Linked DNA regions of Homo sapiens. The protein of the gene in region 1 interacts with the protein of each later gene in a pairwise test. Each region holds a gene or a part of one and is shown in the gene's direction. Other genes may lie near its edges.

The links. The genes of interacting proteins can lie anywhere in the genome.
Region 2: the proteins of NME4 (region 1) and CIDEB interact in binary tests that used the Homo sapiens proteins (3 or more experiments, as listed by UniProt).
Region 3: the proteins of NME4 (region 1) and LMO4 interact in binary tests that used the Homo sapiens proteins (3 or more experiments, as listed by UniProt).

Annotation. Positions count from the first base shown.
Region 1 is NC_000016.10:392,708-400,226, forward strand, and holds the start of NME4 (nucleoside diphosphate kinase, mitochondrial isoform a precursor), read left to right. Parts: upstream 1-4,491; 5' UTR 4,492-4,515; coding exon 4,516-4,606; intron 4,607-5,034; exon of another isoform or gene 5,035-5,472; intron 5,473-5,500; exon of another isoform or gene 5,501-5,687; intron 5,688-6,282; coding exon 6,283-6,416; intron 6,417-6,671; coding exon 6,672-6,773; intron 6,774-6,919; coding exon 6,920-7,032; intron 7,033-7,401; coding exon of another isoform or gene 7,402-7,483; exon of another isoform or gene 7,484-7,511; coding exon 7,512-7,519.
Region 2 is NC_000014.9:24,304,952-24,312,925, reverse strand, and holds CIDEB (lipid transferase CIDEB), read left to right. Parts: upstream 1-4,948; 5' UTR 4,949-5,067; coding exon 5,068-5,108; exon of another isoform or gene 5,109-5,410; coding exon 5,411-5,555; exon of another isoform or gene 5,556-6,402; coding exon 6,403-6,552; exon of another isoform or gene 6,553-6,788; coding exon 6,789-6,979; exon of another isoform or gene 6,980-7,160; coding exon 7,161-7,293; 3' UTR 7,294-7,739; downstream 7,740-7,974. Other genes in the region: LTB4R2 (leukotriene B4 receptor 2), read right to left, coding at 1,185-2,261; NOP9 (nucleolar protein 9), read right to left, coding at 7,831-7,974. UniProt on the Homo sapiens protein: Lipid transferase specifically expressed in hepatocytes, which promotes unilocular lipid droplet formation by mediating lipid droplet fusion. Lipid droplet fusion promotes their enlargement, restricting lipolysis and favoring lipid storage.
Region 3 is NC_000001.11:87,345,878-87,349,449, forward strand, and holds the end of LMO4 (LIM domain transcription factor LMO4), read left to right. Parts: 3' UTR 1-3,046; downstream 3,047-3,572. UniProt on the Homo sapiens protein: Transcription cofactor. Plays a role in establishing motor neuron identity, in concert with MNX1, acting, at least in part, to disrupt LDB1-LHX3 complexes thereby negatively modulating interneuron genes in motor neurons.

The DNA of each region.
Region 1 (7,519 bases):
ACTTCTAAGCCCACCTATGTTGCTTTTGGCCAGAAACATCAGTTCCTTGTCATGGGGGCCTCCGCACAGGGCTGCTCACAACAGGGGAGCTGCTTCTCCCAGGAGGTGGCGGAGCAGCAGCAGCTGCAGTCTTTGGTGACCAGATTGTGAAAGTGACACTCCGTCTCTTTTGCTGTGTCAGAAGTCAGTCACCAGGCATGGTCCACACTCAAGGGGTAGGCATTACACAAGGAAATGAACTGGGTTTTGCTTTTCTTGTTGAGTTACGAGAGTTCTTTTTTGTTTTGTTTTGAGACAGGGTCTCATTCTGTTGCCCAGGCTGAGTGCAGTGGTGCGATCACAGCTCAATCCAGCCTGGACCTCTTGGGCTCAAGCAATCTTCCCACCTCAGCCTTCCCGGTAGCTGGAAATACAGGCGCACACCAACACGCCCCGCTAATTTTTTATTTTTTTGTAGAGACAGGTTTCACTATGTTTCCCAGGCTGGTCTCAAACTCCTGGCCTCAAGTGATCCTCCAACCTCTGCCTCCCACAGTGCTAAGAGTACAGGTGTGAACCATCCCATCACGCCTGGCCAAGAGAGTTATTTATTTATTTATTTATTGAGACAGAGTCTTGCTCTGTCTACCAGCCTGCAGTGCCATAACACAATCTCAGCTCACAGCAACCTCCGCCTCCCAGGGTCAAGCAATTCTCCTGCCTCAGCCTCCCAAGTAGCTCGGATTACAGGCACCTGCCACCAGGCCCGGCTAATTTTATATTTTTAGTAGAGACAGGGTTTCTCCATGTTGGTCAGGCTGGTCTCAAACTCCCAACCTCAGGTGATCCACCCGCCTCAGCCTCCCAAAGTGCTGCGATGACAGGCATGAGCCACCTCGTCCGGCCCAGCATAATTTTTTTTTTCTTTTTTTAAGATGGAGTCTTGTTCTGTCACCCAGGCTGGAGTGCAAGGGCACGATCTCAGCTCACTGCAACCTCTGCCTCCCGGGTTCAAGGGATTCTCCTGCCTCAGCCTCCCGAGTAGCTGGGATTACAGGTGCATGCCACCACACCCAGCTAATTTTTTGTATTTTTAGTATAGACAGGGTTTCGCCATGTCGGCCAGTCTGGTCTCGAACTCCTGACCTCAGGCGATACACCCACCGCAGCTTCCTAAAGTGCTGGGATGACAGGCGCGAGCCACTGCGCCCAGTCTCAGCATGTTTTTAATGTGCAAAATAAAATACAAGGAAATAAAAATATAAAAAACTATACTGAAATAAATTATCAAAATATTGTAGGCCAGGCCGGGCGCAGTGGCTCACACCTGTAATCCCAGCACTTTAGGAAGCTGCGGTGGGTGTATCGCCTGAGGTCAGGAGTTCGAGACCAGACTGGCCAACATGGCGAAACCCTGTCTATACTAAGAATACAAAAAATTAGCTGGGTGTGGTGGCGAGCACCTGTAATCCCAGCTACTCGGGAGGCTGAGGCAGGAGAATTGCTTGAACCCAGGAGGTGGGGGTTGCAGTGAGCTGAGATCATGCCCTTGCACTCCAGCCTGGGCAACAGAGTAAGACGATGTCTCACCAACAAACAAACAAAATATTTTAGGCAGCGGGGCGTGGTGGCTCACACCCGTAATCCCATCACTTTGGGAGGCCAAGGCGGGTTGATCACAAGGTCAAGAGATCGAGACCATCCTGGCCAACATGGTGAAACCCCATCTCTACTAAAAAACAAAAATTAGCCGGGTGTGGTGGCGCGTGCCTGTAATCTCAGCTACTCAGGAGGCTGAGGCAGGAGAATCGCTTGAATTGGGAGGCGGAGGTTGCAGTGAGCCAGGATTACACCACTGCACTCCAGCCTGGCAACAGAGTGAGACTCCATCTCAAAAACAAAAACAAAAACAAAAACAAAATATTTTAGGCCAAGTGCGGTGGCTCAGGCCTGTTTTCCTAGTTACTGGGGAGGCTGAGGCAGGAGGATCGCTTGAGGCTGGGAGGTGAAGGCTGCAGTTGAGCTATGACTGCACCACTGCACTCCAGCCCAGGTGACAGAACGAGACCCTGTTGCTAAAAAAACAAAAATAAAACATTAAAAAATGTACGATATAGTGGCCGGGCGCGGTGGCTCATGCCTGTAATCCCAGCACTTTGGGAGGCTGAGGCGGGCAGATCACAAGGTCAGGAGATCGAGACCATCCTGGCTAACATGGTGAAACCCCGTCTCTACTAAAAATACAAAAAAAAAAAAAAATTAGCCAGGCGTGGTGGCAGGCGCCTATAGTCCCAGCTGGAGGCTGAGGCAGGAGGATGGCGTGAACCCGGGAGGCGGAGCTTGCAGTGAGCCGAGATCGCGCCACTGCACTCCAACCTGGGTGACAGAGTGAGACTTCGTCTCAAAAAAAAAACAGAGTACGCTATAGTAATATCTGCTTTTTCCTTTTTGCAATAGCTTTATTGGGATACAATTGACATACTATACACTTCACTCATATATTTTTTGTTTATTTACTATTTTTTTTCAAGAGACAGGGTCTTGCTATATTGCCCTGGCTAGTCTCAAACTCCTGGGCTTATGTGATCCTCCTGCCTCAGCTTCCCAAATTGTTGGGATAATAGGCCTGAGCAAGAGTCCAGCCTCTAAAAAGAAAGAAAGTCACTTCTTTATACCATAGTACTGCAAATTCTAGTCAGAGCAACTAGACAAGAAAATAAAATAAAAGGCATTCAGATTGGAAAGAAAGAACTGAAACCGTCTCTATTCCCATATGACATGATGTTTTTTCTTTTCTTTTTTTTTTTTTTTTTGAGACAGAGTCTTGCTCTGTTGCCCAGGCTGGAGTGCAGTGGCATGCTCTCGGCTCATTGTGAGCTCCACCTCCTGGGTTCAAGCCATTCTCCTGCCTCAGCCTCCTGAGTAGCTGGGATTACAGGCATGCACCACCATGTCCAGCTAATTTTTGTATTTTTAGTAGAGACGGGGTTTCACCACGTTGACCAGGCTGGTCTTGAACTCCTGACCTCGTGATCCGCTCGCCTCGGGCTCCCAAAGTGCTGGGATTACAGACATGAGCCAGTGTGCCCCGCTCCATATGACACAATCTTATACAAAGAAATTCCCAAGGAATTAATTAAAAACTATTAGAACTAATAAATGCATTTGGAAGGCTTGCAGGATACAAGATCAATACACAAAGCTCAATTGTTGGCCAGGCGTGGTGGCTCACGCCTGTAATCCCAGCCCTTTGGGAGGCCAAGGCGGGTGGATCACCTGAGGCCACGAGTTTGAGACCAGCCTGGCCAACATGGCGAAACCCCGTCTCTACTAAAAATAAAAAAAAACACCAGCCAGGTGTGGTGGCAAGCTCCTGTAATTCCATCTACTCGGGAGCCTGAGGCAGGATAACTGCTTGAACCTGGGAGGCGGAGGCTGCAGTGAGCAGAGATATGCCATTATTGCACTCCAGCCTGGGCAACAAGAGCGACACTCTGTCTGAAAACAAACAAACCTCAATTGTCTGTTATACACTTGCAATGGACAATTCAAATAAGAAAACAATTCCATTCACAATAGCAGCAAAAAGAACAGGCTTTTTCAAGACTCATTAAGTAAGTTCTAGCAGTGGGAGACCTAACCATTTCAAATAGTAGCATGCTGTGCTATCTACCCAAATATTACCGTACCTGTGAATTCTGTTGGTGACAAAGTCACAGGCCCTGCAACTATGAATGTGGCTTCTTCCTTATATCCGCAATTGAATGAATTAGAGGAATGCAGTCACATCAGAGGCCATTTGAGAATAAAGGTCGGATTTTTCCCCATTCAAATTCACAGACCAGGCTCACATCTGTAATCCCAGCACCTTGGGAAGCCAAGGCAGGAGGATTTCTTGATCCCAGGAGTTTGAGACCAGCATGGGCAACATAGGGAGGCCCCATCTCTACAAAAAATTAAAATATTAGCTGGTTGTGGTGGCGCGGGTCTGTAGTCCCGCCTACTCGTCCTGGCCGCAGAGTCAGCGTCTCCGGAGCGCCTCCTTCTCCCGCCCTGGGGCTCACGTGGGAATTTCACCCTCCATTGGAGGGGGCTCAGACCAGGGCTTCTAGACCTCCTTTTGGTCCGTGAATTTATTTTTGAGACAGAGTCTTGCTCTATTGCTCAGGCTGGAGTGCAGCGGTGCAGTCACAGCTCACTGCAGCCTCAATCTCCTGGGCTCACGCGATCCTCCTGCCTCAGCCTCCCGAGTGGGCCTTCCTCCGTGGGAAAGCGTTAAAACGATAGTTAACGGTTGCGTCGGTGTAAAGACGAATGCAATTCGAGAAGGATTCATTATTATTTTGTTTTTTCTTCTGATTTTTAACAGAAATTGGCGTTGAACATTTCCCCCGTGAGCGCCGGGCCACGGGGGTCCGGGGCGGCGGGGGGCTCCGGGGCGGCGGGGGGCTCCCGGGCGGGCGGGGGCGGGTCTCGGGCTGGCACCGCCCTCCGCGCCCGCTCCTCGCGCTCACAGCGGCCCGCGGGCCGGGCGTCATGGGCGGCCTCTTCTGGCGCTCCGCGCTGCGGGGGCTGCGCTGCGGCCCGCGGGCCCCGGGCCCGAGCCTGCTAGTGCGCCACGGCTCGGGTGAGTGGGGCCGCGCGCCCCGGCGGGGACGCGGAGGGGAGGAAGGGGCGCGCGCCGCTCGGCCTTTGTGCGCGCACGTGCGGGCTGGGGTCCGACTCCCCCAGAGGCCTCGGGGCGCGGGCTGCGGGGTCCGTCCGAGTTGGGGAAGGCGCCGGCTCGCACCCGCACGCCCCTCCAGTGCCCGTCCGGCTCTGCGGCTCCTTCTCGCCTCCCCAGGCCCCAGGCTGCAGGCGCCCGGCGAGTTGGCAGCCTGGGCGGGTCCGGGGCGACCGAGGGCCCGGGAGCGCAAGGAAGGCAGAGGCCGGCTGCAGCACTGGGCGGGGAGGGGGTCTCCCGGCCGGGGTGGGGGTGGGGGTGTGGGGGGGTGAGGGAGTCGGGGGGTGGGGGTGGGGGTGTGGGGGGGTGAGGGAGTCGGGGGGTGGGGGTGGGGGGAGCCGCTCCGCTGGGGCGTTCGCTGAAGGCCAAGTTAGGCCAGAATCTGACTGGGACGTCAGGCCCCAAGTCCCCGGCCCCGCCGCTGCCCGGCCCCCCCAGCTGCCACCTCACAGGACGATCCATGTCCCAGGGCTCCCTCCATCGGCTCTGAAAAGTGAGCCGCCGCCTGCAATGCCCGCACCAGCCGCAGCAGAGCCCCAGGCTACACAAGGCGCCCTGCAAACTGGGTTTTGGGGGAACAAACCAACCAGGGGGTCTTCCTCCCGTGGGCTTCAGCCGCCTGCTGGGGTTAACTTTTCCTCCTGGCCTGGCGGAGCCCCTTTGGCTCTGTCCAGATTCTGTGGGACATACAGGGTCTGGGCTCCTCTGGAAACCAGGGACCCGATGCCGGAGGGTAGCTTGGCTCTGGAGCAGCCTGGGACTATAGGAAGGTGAGGACGTCTTCTGTTTCCCTGGCAGCGTCCCCTCCAGAGGAGGACGGCTGGGGCGGAGCTCAGCGCTGACCCTGGGTCTGGAAGCGACAGGCCTTGAAACTCCACAGCAGCACAGGCCCCGTCTCCTGGCTCGGACAGAACCCTGCTACCTTCCCTCTTCAATCTTCAGGCCCCTTTTTGTCCGTGTTTCCAGGGCTCACCTGGTGGGGAAAGTGTGTTTCTCCCTGGTTCCCTGCCACTCATTCACCTCAGACACAGGGTGGGCTCTGGGTTCTTCCTCATGTGGAAAGTCGGGGCTTCAGACCATGTCTGTCGTCATCCAGAAGGGATGGAGTCAAAAGTGAGGCTGGAGTTTTGCAGGATCTCCAGACTTCCCTGAGGCCACTGAGCTGGGCTGTGCCTCTGTGGACCTCAGGGTGGTCGCTGAGCTGGGCTGTCCCTCCCTGGACCTTGAGGTGGTCCCTGAGCTGGCTCTGCCTCTATGGACCTTGCGGTGGTGGTCCCTGAGCTGGGCAGTGCCTCCCTGAACCTCGGGGCGATCTCAGGCAGCCTCTGCCTCTGCTGGGAGGAGCCATGGCCCCTGGGAGAGGCTAGAAGCCCTGGGGACACATTGCCTTGGGTGTCCCTGACAGGGACTATCATGGGGGTGTTTGTGGCTGTGGGCACCATCCCTGTCCCTTCCAGAGTGCCCTGCATAGAGGCAGACACCCTGAAGCCTGGTGACCCCTGGGCTCTGGCTGGGAAACCCGGGTCGTGGGGACGTGAAAGGGTGAGGTGGCAGTGCCTCTGACCTCTTGCCTTTTGAAGGAGGGCCCTCCTGGACCCGGGAGCGGACCCTGGTGGCGGTGAAGCCCGATGGCGTGCAACGGCGGCTCGTTGGGGACGTGATCCAGCGCTTTGAGAGGCGGGGCTTCACGCTGGTGGGGATGAAGATGCTGCAGGTAGTGGGACTCTGGGCTTGTGGGTGTCCCTGTGGGGATGGGGTTGGGGGATCCTTCTCGGCCTTTCACATCCCAGCCAGCGCCGGGGCAGGGCCTGGCTTTGGCAGTTGAAGGGGCAGGAGGGATCTATTCTGCGGTGGGGGTGCTGCCCATGCTGGTGTTATCTGCAAGGTGCCTGAGGTCAGGGCATCACAGCTGCTGTGCTAGTGCCCACGTTTACTGTCTGCGGCTCCTCCTTACCTCAATGCCACCCAGGCACCAGAGAGCGTCCTTGCCGAGCACTACCAGGACCTGCGGAGGAAGCCCTTCTACCCTGCCCTCATCCGCTACATGAGCTCTGGGCCTGTGGTGGCCATGGTACGGCAGGGCAGGGGTGGTGGAAGGGCCTGTGGGTAAAGGGCGTGTGGGTGTGTCTTTCCCCCCAGCAAAGGGAGGGGCCCTGGATTGAGCCCAGGGGCCCTTGGTGTTCCCCACTTCTCCCCAACCATTATCTCTCGCTGCAGGTCTGGGAAGGGTACAATGTCGTCCGCGCCTCGAGGGCCATGATTGGACACACCGACTCGGCTGAGGCTGCCCCAGGAACCATAAGGGGTGACTTCAGCGTCCACATCAGCAGGTACGGGGGTCCTGATACACCAGGCTGCTGCTGGGGGCAAGGAGGGCCATCACTTGGGGTGGTGGCAGATCCACGAGACCTGGCTGTCTTGCTGTGCTAGGATGAAGCCAGGTCGGACATGACAGCTCACACTGGTGAGAGCCGTGTTCTCCCAGGGCACACAGGGCAATGAGGTGTTCCCTTTGTGTTGTGTGTACCGTGCCATCGTTGCCTGTTACCTGACACCCCAAGGGGTTGGCACGGGGCAACTTGGGGGGAAATGAGGCTCCCAAAAGCTGGGGCCTGGGCGGGTCCACGAGGCTGTAAGAGGCCGAGGCCAGGCTGGAACCCGGTTTCCCAGCTCCACTGTTACTCCTTCCCTGTCTGCAGTCACAGGCTTGCTCCCCTAGACAGAGGGCAACGGGAGCAGCAGATGGTCCCTGGGATTCCTCAGGGTGCACATGAAGCCTGAGCCTCACATTGCTCCTGTCCTGGCACAGGAATGTCA
Region 2 (7,974 bases), on another chromosome or scaffold:
AGCGGCCAACCATCTCAGTTTGTTGGGAAACCGGCAGGGCTGGGACAAGGAGTTTTCAGTGCTTAAACTGGGAAAGTTCCAGGCCAACTGGGATGAGCTGGTCACCTTAGTGACCACAGATGTGTACTTGTGGATGTCCCCTGAAAAGAATCCCATTCTACATCCCCCAATCAAAGGGGTCAGGATCTAGAACCGTTTTTAGACCTAGATAAGGATTCCAAAAGGTGGGGGCAGAGAAGTATTGGGGAACGGGCTAGGAATAGCTAGCAGCATCTTAGAAGGAGCCCAGACTTGGCAAAGAGAAAAAGAATATGTGGCACTTCTCTGAAAAATTATTCCTGTCCTCTAAATATTCCTGCCATTCCTCATACCCCAATGGCCAACCTCCAAACTTCCCTGACTGAGTGCTTGCTCCTGGCTCCTTTTCACGTCAGGTGGCCTTTGCAGGGAGGATCAGATGGTCAGGGGGCAAGGTAAGTCTCAGACTCCCAGGGCCCCTACACCACTGTCCACTCCTTGTGTGCCTGTCTCATACTCACTGGACCAAATACAAGACAGGCAGGAAAACTTCCTTTTCAAACCCCACAGATTCATTTTCCCCTTCAGAGCCATTTCCTCCTCAGAGGCTTTTATAAGCCTCAGAGAATGGATCCCATTCCTACCCCTCATCCAAGCTCCCATACCTCTCCTTCCATTTTCTCCTTTATTTCCAGAGTGGTTCTATGGGTTGGCCTGTGGAACCAGGGCACCTGGGCTGAGGAGGGCAGGTCAAGATGCCACTGAAGGCTGGCACTGCCCAGCCTGGCTTGACCCAGCAGGGAACTAGGTGGCTTCAGTACAACTCAGGCATGAAGAACCACCAGGGGAAGCACACTTAAGTCATCATCTAATGGCTTCCCAGTGTATTTCACAATAACAGCTATTGGCAACAAGTAAGCAATGCTGGCACATGGGTACATGCCAACTTGCAAGCACACAATAGTCCTTAACAGGGACCATCACCACCCTCATAATCCCTCAGTTTGGAGGAGCCTGGGCCTGCCCCAAGTGTATAGTAATCCTACCCAGCCAGATCCAAACTCTAGTCAAAGAAGGGTCCCCAAATGTCCCAGAACACTGACCTCTGGAGGGTGGGTGGGGGGTGGAAAGGGACAGGGAAGGGCAGCAGGTTGTAGGGTCTGCTGTCAAAGGTCCCATTCCGGACCGTCCTTCTCCATCCCACCCCCCGGGTCTCCATTGCCGCGGCCCTGCCCCACCACTTTCAGCTGAGGGGTAGTTCGGAGCTCCATGGTCCCTTCCCTAGAGCGGCCGCCCCCTCGGGCCTCCCCAGAGCCTTCGAAGAGCCGCGTGAGGAAACGGGGACCTGCCCGGGGCAGCAGATCTCCAGCGGTGAAGACGTAGAGCACCGGGTTGACGCTAGAACTGAAGAAGGCCAAGGCCGTAGTTCCCGCTCGCGCCGCCTGGCCGGCTCCGCCCAGCTTCGCCAAGGCCCCTTCCGGTGGAGCCAGCGCTGCGACCGCCTGCAGAAGGTTGACTGCGTGGTAGGGGGCCCAGAGCAAGCCGAAGGCAAGCACGATGGCGCTCACCAGCCGGCCCACCCGCGCCCCGTGCCGCCCGGAGCCCCAGCGGGCGCCCCGCAGCCGTGCCAGCGTCACGCTGTAGCAGCCGAGCATCAGCCCGAAAGGAAGCACGAAAGCGGTCAGAGTCTCCAGGCTCAGGTGGGCGGCGGCGTGGACCGGCGACGGGTGGCACAGCTGGCATACGCGGTCCCTCCACAGGTGGCGGTAGACGGCGGCCGGGACGGCGAGCAACAGGGCGGCCAGCCAGACCGCCAGCAGCAGGCGGCGGGCCAGGGCCGGGCTGCGCAGCCGAGGCGCCAGGAAGGGGCGGGTGACTGCGAGGCAGCGCTGCAGGCTGAGCAGGCCGGTGAGCAGCACGCTGGCGTACATGCTGAGCGCGCACACGTAGTACACCGCCTTGCAGCCCGCCTGGCCCAGCGGCCAGGCCTGCCGGGTCAGGAAGGCCACAAAGAGCGGCGTGAGCAGCAGCACCGCGCCGTCGGCCAGCGCCAGGTGCAGCACAAGCGTGGCCGCCAGCGGTCGCCCCCGTGCAGGCCGCCAGCCCGCCAAGCTCCACACCACGAAGCCGTTGCCAGGCAGCCCCAGCAGCGCCGCCAGCAGCAGGAAGGCTGTGCCTGTGGCCCGCGAAGTCTTCCAGCTCAGCAGTGTCTCGTTCCCTGGGGGACGGTAGCAGACCGACATCCTTCTGGGCCTACAGGTGGGTGGAAGGCGCCACAGAGGGCGTTCAGGGGTGGGGCAAAACCCCACCTGTGATGCCCGATGAGAAGGTGCCATGCCTCCTCCTTACTTCCCTGCAGCCTGCCTCTTTTCTGCCTGGGAGTCCTGACTTCCACGAGGACCCAGACCCCACCTCAAACACAACTCCTTCTTGGAACCCAGATCCCCTGCTCCCAGTCAGTTGACCTGCCCCACTCCTGGCCTCCTTCCCAGAGCTCAGTGGTAAACAGGCATAAAGTCATCACCCCAGGCTGTCACTATCTCTACCACCACTCCTCTAGTCTGGCCCCTCCTTCTTTGTCCAGCCCCATTCTAGCACATCTGGGCAAAACTGGATGGTGGGGTGTAAAGGGACGTGCACAGATCTACTTACCAAGCTGGGAGCAAGCAGGATTGGGGGCCTGGAGAAGCTGAAAGGTTAAGCAGCAGTAGGCGAGGTGCCTACTCCTGTCCTGTGCCTATCACATTTGCAGAGGGTAAGACAAGAATGGGGAGGGACAAGATGAGGCTCATCCTGGGCCTCTCCTGGGGCCCCTCCCTCACCCTGCTCCTTCCCATCACCAACGCACCCAGGCGTCCAGGCATGTGAGAGCCTGCCTTGCCAGGAAACAGCACAAGCTGAAGTGGGGCAGTAAGATTCCCTGGTGGTGGAAGGAAATAGGAGGACTCTGCTGAATCCTGGTCCTGCTTCTGTTCTCATCCCTCCCCCAGCTCTGGCCCCAATCCTCCCAGCCCACCTTCTGCAGTGTGTATGTTGCCTGGTCTCTCTGGCCTGCAGAGGTGACCCAAACAACTCAGTCCCCCACCTGCCTTATCCTTGCCTGTTTCCAGTCTCCTGGTCCGGCTGAGCCCCTGGCCTCCTACCTCCTCCCACCTCTTGCCTCAGGCCCTGCCCCAGTCACTCCACCCTCAGGGCTCTCACCGGGCTGTCAATGACAGCTTTTCCATGTAAGGCATGGTGCTAGGTTCCAGGAGGAACAGGGGATGCATGGAGGCATAATGGTTAGGGAGTCATGACACACAACCATGAAGAGGCCCCATTACCAGGCTGCACCAGGATACAAGACAAGAAAGGAAAGGATGAGTAGGGACATACTAAGAAGCAGCCCTCTCCTCTTGGAAAAGTCAAGCAAAACTTGGAAATGAAGAGATTTGAGGGGGGCCTGGCAGATGGATAGAGCTGGGGGAAGGGAAAAGAAAGGCCTCTGCTCAAGTAACAGCCAGAACTTGAGGTTGCTTGGGGAGGGCACCAGGAGCACTGTCTTAGTTTGGGTTCTTCCAAAGCAGAGCTTGAGCTAAGGGCTTGGGTACAGGTGATCCTGTATTCTTGAGCTAAGGGCTTGGGTACAGGTGATCCTGTATTTGGGAGGTTAACTCAGGAAGTGAGGGCATAAGGTAAAACAAGAGAGAGGAAAGCCATTAAGAGTATGTTAAGTCCCTTCAGTAGGCCTTGGGAACCTCTGAGAAAAGTATAGATTGCCCAAGACAAAAGACTGGCAGGGTGATCAGTCCAAAGCATTTATTAGGAGAATGTACTTAATGAGTGGGCTACAGCGTATCCTCACAACAGACAGTGAGAGAGAGTTGTTCTACCTGGGTATATCCAAAACAAGGGGGTCAGGGTATGGAGTTTACGAGGGTTCAAGGTATTTGGTTCAGGGCCAGGGCCAGTTTTTTTCAGTGTTTTGGGCAACAACCTGAATACCTTTTCAAGGCTCTGGCTTGGGCTCAAGCCTGCAGGGGAAATGCAACTGGCCAGGTCACAGGGCAATCAAGTTACTCTGTGTTTCTTTGTCAGGACACAGAAAAAAAGTGGGGAAGCTGGGGGACCCTACAAGGATCCTTGGCAGGAAAGCAGGGATTGTGTTCATTTGAGGGTTTCACTGTCAGTGAGAGTCTCAGCTTCCATGCAACTGTCCATCACGGCTGCAACTGAAATCAGAGCTGGGACACAGCGCACCAGAAGCTAAAGTCTTGATGCCATCAAAGGACATCCCTGCCCCATTCACATCTCTGTCACGTCCACTAATCGGCAAAAGGAGAAAAGTGAGAGAAGATGACCTAAGTGTGACTGCAGCAGGCAGCTCTGGAAAATGAAGCCAGAGCAGTGAGCCAGCCCCTCCTCCGACCAAGGAGGAAGGAAAGAGCAGGTAAGCAGGAAGGCCAGTGTCCCAGACAGGACCCTAATGATCCTGAATCCATGTATCAGGATCCATCCTCTCCTTACACCCTTCCTGGACACAGTCTCACCTCTCATTTTCCAAAGCCCTGCCATGCTGCCATCCCACTTCCCCACACTCTGCCCCGGGTTCCCTTTTCCTAAAGCTGCAGCTTATGGCTTCTCCAGTAGGTGGCAGCACACACAGAGCCACTCATAAACTGCAGCTTCTCAGAGCCTGAGAGCCAGAAACCGTCCCCAGAAATTCCCTCCATAGAAATAAAAAAACACCAGAAGTCACATTTCATCCTTTTACATGGTTCCCATCTACCCTCACAACACATGTCATCACCAAAGACACACATACAAGCTCCAATGGCTTTTGCCAGGCAATTCTTCCTCCAGGACCCCATCTGGCCCCTCCCTCATCCCTCCCCTTGGACTTTGCCCTTCTTACTGGCCAGGCAGGGGGGCCAGAGTCCAGGCTTGACTCATTCCCACCTTGTCCTGGGCTGAGATCCCAGGTTTGTAACAGAAAACACCACTAAAGCCCCAGCACAGGAGAGAACCACCCAGCCCAGAAGTTCCAGGGAAGGAACTCTCCGGTCCACCATGGAGTACCTCTCAGCTCTGAACCCCAGTGACTTACTCAGGTGACTGCTAACCCTCCGCTCTACCCTCCACCTTTAGGGGATATAGGCAGGGCAACAATACTCCACTCAGCCCCTAGGAGACTAACCAGTACCCCTTCCTCTCCTGCTCCCCACTCCACAGTGGGCTTGTCAAGCTCCTGAGCCACCCGCCCCCACCTGCACTCCATGGTCTCTCCCTCATCCCTAATCGATAAACCTAGATCTCTCCCTCCCTAGCCCTCTAGCCACTCTACCCTCATCATGCCCTTTACACTCACCAAGCCCCTCCTCGCCCCTTCTTGACTTTTCTTCTCAACTACCAGGTCAGTATCTAATATAAGCTCGGAGTTTGGACGGAGGGTCTGGACCTCAGCTCCACCACCCCAGCGACCTTTCCGTGTCTGTGATCACAAGCGGACCATCCGGAAAGGCCTGACAGCTGCCACCCGCCAGGAGCTGCTAGCCAAAGTAAGTAGGCCAAGTTCCTCGGTTCCTATAGCAGGGGTAGCCAAGGGGCTCCACAACAGTGGCAACTTGTGATGATGGAGCAGAGGGCTGAAGTCACACAGCTGCCCCTCCCTCTGAGGGCTAAAAGCAGCGGAGTGGGCCTAATGAGCTCTGGTCAATTTGTTCATTTTCCACCGAGTGAGCTTTTCTATGGGAGCAGGGGTTAGCAGGAGATAGGGAGAGTTCGAGGGACAGAATTCAGAAGCTAGTATGGAAAGGTGATTTGTGTGACAAATCAAGTTCAAATTCTGATTCTGCCACTTCCTGCCTGTCAAACCTTGGGAAGTTGTTCAACCTACCAAAACCTCAGTTTCTTCAACTATAAAAAGGCAATAATAATACATCACCTCCTAGGGTTGTTGAAAGGAGTAAGAGGATAATGTAGGTAAAGTCCTCATACCTGGCACAGAGTAAGGACTCAAAAAGGTTAAACACTATTACTGAAAACACTTCTGGAGAACTCTTGAGGGTGTGGGAAGTGAGGTGCAGCATTGTAGATAAGACAGAAGGGTGGACTTCGTGAGAACCTGGCTTGCTTTCCAATTCCAAACCAGAAGTGACTTGGAGGGGAGCAAGGGGAGATGCCAATGACATGGTAGGAGCAAAGAGGAAAAAGGTCAGCCTCTAGCTAGGATCCCCCAAAAACTGAAGAACACGGAGAGCTGCAACCTTTAGGAGGTATCAAAGTGCCGGAAAGTCAAAGTGGGACATCGACCAATGTCTAGAGCCAACTGATGGATGTTGGGCAGCTAAAGAGGGAAGGGGCATGGGATAAGACCTGCCCTTCTTGCTTCTTGCCATTGGGCAGGCATTGGAGACCCTACTGCTGAATGGAGTGCTAACCCTGGTGCTAGAGGAGGATGGAACTGCAGTGGACAGTGAGGACTTCTTCCAGCTGCTGGAGGATGACACGTGCCTGATGGTGTTGCAGTCTGGTCAGAGCTGGAGCCCTACAAGGGTAAGAGGCCTATACTGGGGCTGCTTCCAATGCCTGTCCTTTAGAGCTTTCCCGGGCTTCCTCTCTAGCTTAACCCTGATCCTGGGGACCAGGTGCAGGAGGAGTTGTGGAATTGTCAAGGATGTCACACAGTGGACAGAAAGTCCAAGCGAGGGAGGGTCTGACCCAGTGCTGATGGAGATTAGTGGTGGGTGTCTGGTATGAGGATCTACTGCACTGACAAGGGTGTCCTACAGAGTGGAGTGCTGTCATATGGCCTGGGACGGGAGAGGCCCAAGCACAGCAAGGACATCGCCCGATTCACCTTTGACGTGTACAAGCAAAACCCTCGAGACCTCTTTGGCAGCCTGAATGTCAAAGCCACATTCTACGGGCTCTACTCTATGAGTTGTGACTTTCAAGGACTTGGCCCAAAGAAAGTACTCAGGTCAGAAATCAACATGTCATACTGCCCCATCCCCTACAGTTGGATAGTCCCCATAATTCGTCCTCTTGCACCCACCTACCCCTAGTTAGCTCTTGCTTGTGGAAAGTCCTCATCTCCCAGCTTGATGGCTTCCTCCCAAGTTTTCCAAATCATCTGATTTCCTCTTGTCTCTGCCATTCAGGGAGCTCCTTCGTTGGACCTCCACACTGCTGCAAGGCCTGGGCCATATGTTGCTGGGAATTTCCTCCACCCTTCGTCATGCAGTGGAGGGGGCTGAGCAGTGGCAGCAGAAGGGCCGCCTCCATTCCTACTAAGGGGCTCTGAGCTTCTGCCCCCAGAATCATTCCAACCGACCCACTGCAAAGACTATGACAGCATCAAATTTCAGGACCTGCAGACAGTACAGGCTAGATAACCCACCCAATTTCCCCACTGTCCTCTGATCCCCTCGTGACAGAACCTTTCAGCATAACGCCTCACATCCCAAGTCTATACCCTTACCTGAAGAATGCTGTTCTTTCCTAGCCACCTTTCTGGCCTCCCACTTGCCCTGAAAGGCCAAGATCAAGATGTCCCCCAGGCATCTTGATCCCAGCCTGACTGCTGCTACATCTAATCCCCTACCAATGCCTCCTGTCCCTAAACTCCCCAGCATACTGATGACAGCCCTCTCTGACTTTACCTTGAGATCTGTCTTCATACCCTTCCCCTCAAACTAACAAAAACATTTCCAATAAAAATATCAAATATTTACCACTAAGACTTCTGACTCCAATTTAAACCAGGAAAGGGATGGGGTGGATACCCCATTTTGCCCTCCCCCATCAACACCCAGTCCCAGATCCAAAGCCTCAGTCTTCAAGTATGGAGTTCAATGCCCGCCTCCGCTTGGCCACCGCACCCTGCTGCTGTTCCCAAGCCTCTCGCCGCTTTAGGAAGGTAGTCAAGGCCACATTTCGAGCCACATGGTGGCCGAAAGGGTCTCTTATCAGCTC
Region 3 (3,572 bases), on another chromosome or scaffold:
TGAGTGTCCACTATTTTGTTTATTCTTTTTCTCAATAGCAAACAAAGCCTTGGGTATTGATGAAAAGTATGTATAAAAAAAAATACGGCACAACCATCCTGTTCTCTTATTGAGTTTATAGCTTTTGAAGGAAGTCACAATTTCTAAGTCATACCTGTACATATTTTGAAGCTCACTTAGTTGTAGGGACCCAGAGCTCTTTTTTTATGGTGATCTTTGATTGGTGAAGTAGCCATTTCCTGGTGACCCTTAGGCTCGTGTGGTTGGCTGTAAGGTGTTTATTTTGTTTTGCTCCTACACTTCTTTACTGACTGCGTTTCCGTATGTATTTTGGGGGAAGATTCTGACTTCATTTAGTCTTAGTCTTGAGATACTGAGTTGCTGGTTGCAGGCAGCAGAGTGTCCACCACAGTGCCTGCACTGCCCGCAGAGCTGCCCTCCGGAAAGCATGCAGTATAACAGCTAGTGCTGGAAGGAGGAAAACCAAATAGGCCTGGAGGCTGAGGTTGTACTGCCAGCTTCCTTAGATGTGAGCAAATTTCAACTACAACTTCCATCACAGGCTAATAAAACCAGGTGTGTGAACGCTACTATTTTAAATTTTCTTTTTTAAGATGGCATTTTATTTTGTTCCAGAAAAGCGCCTGATGTAGACCCTCCCTCTGAGAATAGCCGTGGAGCCATGTAGAGAGGTGTAGCTCAGCACATCTCAACTACCAGTCAGCTTCCCTTTGAGAACTTCTGTGCTCACTTCCTGTTTTCAGAGATTCCAGGGCAGGGGAAAAAAAAAATCAGTTGAACTTCAAACCTCCTAGAGGAGATTGTAAAGGCATAGAGTTGAGGTGAATAGTTTTGTTAGAACCTTATAAAAATAAAATGCAAGAAAATAATATGAAGAAATCACATATATATGTTTGAATTAGATGTCTGTTTGAATTAGATCCTTGGGGAATTTCTTCAAACTAGTTCTGGTTCTTATATTTGTTTTTTTTCCTTTAAGGAACTTTCTGAAGGAAGTTAGACTGCGATGGTAAAGGGGGAAATGGGTTAATGAGATTGCAGGCATTTTCTATATTCTTTTTGGCATAAGCACTTATGTCCCTGATATGTACAAATTCAAAGGAGGTGGTTAATAACTTTAGTAAATAATATATTGTCGCATTTAATGATGTGGAGGGCTAAGGTCATTACGGACTTTAAATAAACTATTATATGGCTGGTTCCTCAAGCACTGCTGCGTATTTAATAATGAGCTTCTAAAAGCATTTCTTAAGTTGCAGACCTATAAGATTACAAATGTCACTCATGTTAGTATAATCCACATGCAAGTGATGAAGCCTTCTCTTTGATGTGCTAAATTGGAGAAGGACTAATGGAGCTATGAATATACAATAGAACATATTTAAGTAGTAGTCTTGCTTTAGGTAAAACACTTTCTTGAAACCAGAGGCATTTCAAACAATAAAACCCGGCTCTAATGGGGATGCTCTGTGTGGATAGAAAGCTACTAAAAACACTCAGGTTTATTCTGATGTGAGCAGCGATTGTGTGCAGTTCCTCCCCCAATCTCAACATTGCTTAGGAAAAAAAAAAATCTATGAGTTTATTCCACCTTTCATCCATTGCATTTGTGATGTTATTAGTTAGCAAGATGGACACTGTTCTTTAGAAAGGACTTATTTAATATTAACCACGTCATAGAGCAAGATGGCCCCCAGTCCCTACAAGCAAGTGCAATTAAAAATAAAAGCAAATGTTACTGAGCCCTGCTGAACTCCTGATAAAAAAAATTATGTTTATGGTACATATAAATGTCTCAATCATGCAAATTGTCACTCTTGTTAATGAAACAATTTTGTAAAAAGATAGTCCTCTAAAAGGGTTTAATGTTTTTTACCTATCTAACTGTCTAATTAGATTTACACATCCCGCAAGGCAGGGGAGCCTGAAGCTTTTCCAAACCAAATCGTTTGCCACTAGAAACTATTTTCAGCTCTTCATGATTTATTAGGAAATAGTTTAACCCGGACTGTAGTGTCTTATAAAATACAAAACGAGAAAACTGACACACCAAAATGAAGTCTGTGAAATTGTCATCCTCTTAATATTACCTGTATTTAAATTCTTTCTTTTGCCCTTATTAACACTGATATTTGAAACAACTAATCATCTAAAAGGAAGCTCTTAAAGGGCTTTAAATGTCAATATAGTAAGATTCTAATGTGCACTACTATTTATATAAAATATTTCTTAGGGCCCATAAATCATATAATAAACAGTGAACCCAAGAGCTACATATGGAGTCTAGTGAAGAGTTCCCATGTAGCCTAACTAATTGTATTTAAATTGAGGAGATCCAAAAACCCCATCACCCTTCACCCCAAAGACCCCTTCACCCTTCACCAGGGAATTCTATCCTGGGTGCTGTCCCACCTATGACCCCTTCAAGAGGCCATTGGAAAAAGGCCATTTACAAGTTAATGTTACTTATAGCTTTGTTACTAAGACTCACCTATTGTTAGTGCAGCCAAGTCACAGAAGTGCTTATTGCAGTTAAATAGCAATTTGTTTCCATGAAACTGCAATTAAAGTATTACTGAGCAGCCATTTTAGATTGGCAGTGCTCTGAACGCATGTTAAACAGCCAGCTACTCCCACTTGCAGAGTCTGAGATCTGACTAGCAGCAAAGTGTAGCACATTCGCCGATGCTGGGTACCTAGTTAAAGAGGCATTTGTAGCCCTCTGCTCCCATCGTGAACATGCTGAGAGCAATGACAAGTCAGGGCTGATTTTTGGAAGGTGAACTTGCAACTTACCTCAAGTGAATACTGTTTTCAGTTGTGCAAGAAGTGCTTTATGCTAGTAGATATGTGCATGTTTCCTAGAGGGAATGTTTTCAAGTTCAGATTGATTCTGCTGAGAATGGACGGCAACTCGGAGGCCTCAAGCCAATAATGTACTACAGGCCCTGACATGTTACAGCTGTGTAAACAGGGCCATTCTATTTCCTAAATCACAACTAATAAAGCAGAGGATGAAAATCAATTGATTCTGTTATAAGTTCTTTGAATGACACTGGAAAGTTGTTTAATGACTCCCTGTTAGAATGGACAAGCCTGAGTAGAGTCACCAAAGTACCGATTTTAATTGTCTCTCTCCCCTCAGAACCAGGGCAGGACAGCCTTTCCTAGGAATTGACATCACCATCACCAGATCAAAACCTGCTGGGGAGAGGAAGGATCTGAACTGAGTTCTTCCCGTAGATCTGACATTCAGAATTTGTTGAGTGAGAAAGGTGAAGTGCAAAGGTTGCATTGAAAATGTGAAACATTGATGCAAGATCCTGAGAGAGAAAAGGATTTCAGAGGTGGTGTTTTAAAATGCAATTAGCACTGAATTCTAACCAGTTTGGAAACAATCATTAGCTCATGAGAACGGGAGGCATCTCACCTTCCTTCACTCTGGAACAACCCCCCATCTTGAACTAAAAGGTTAACATCCCCAACTTCTTCAAAAACAGTTTCTATATTTGTGTGCTTTCACCTGTTGTTTGAGCTGCAAGTTTTTTCTT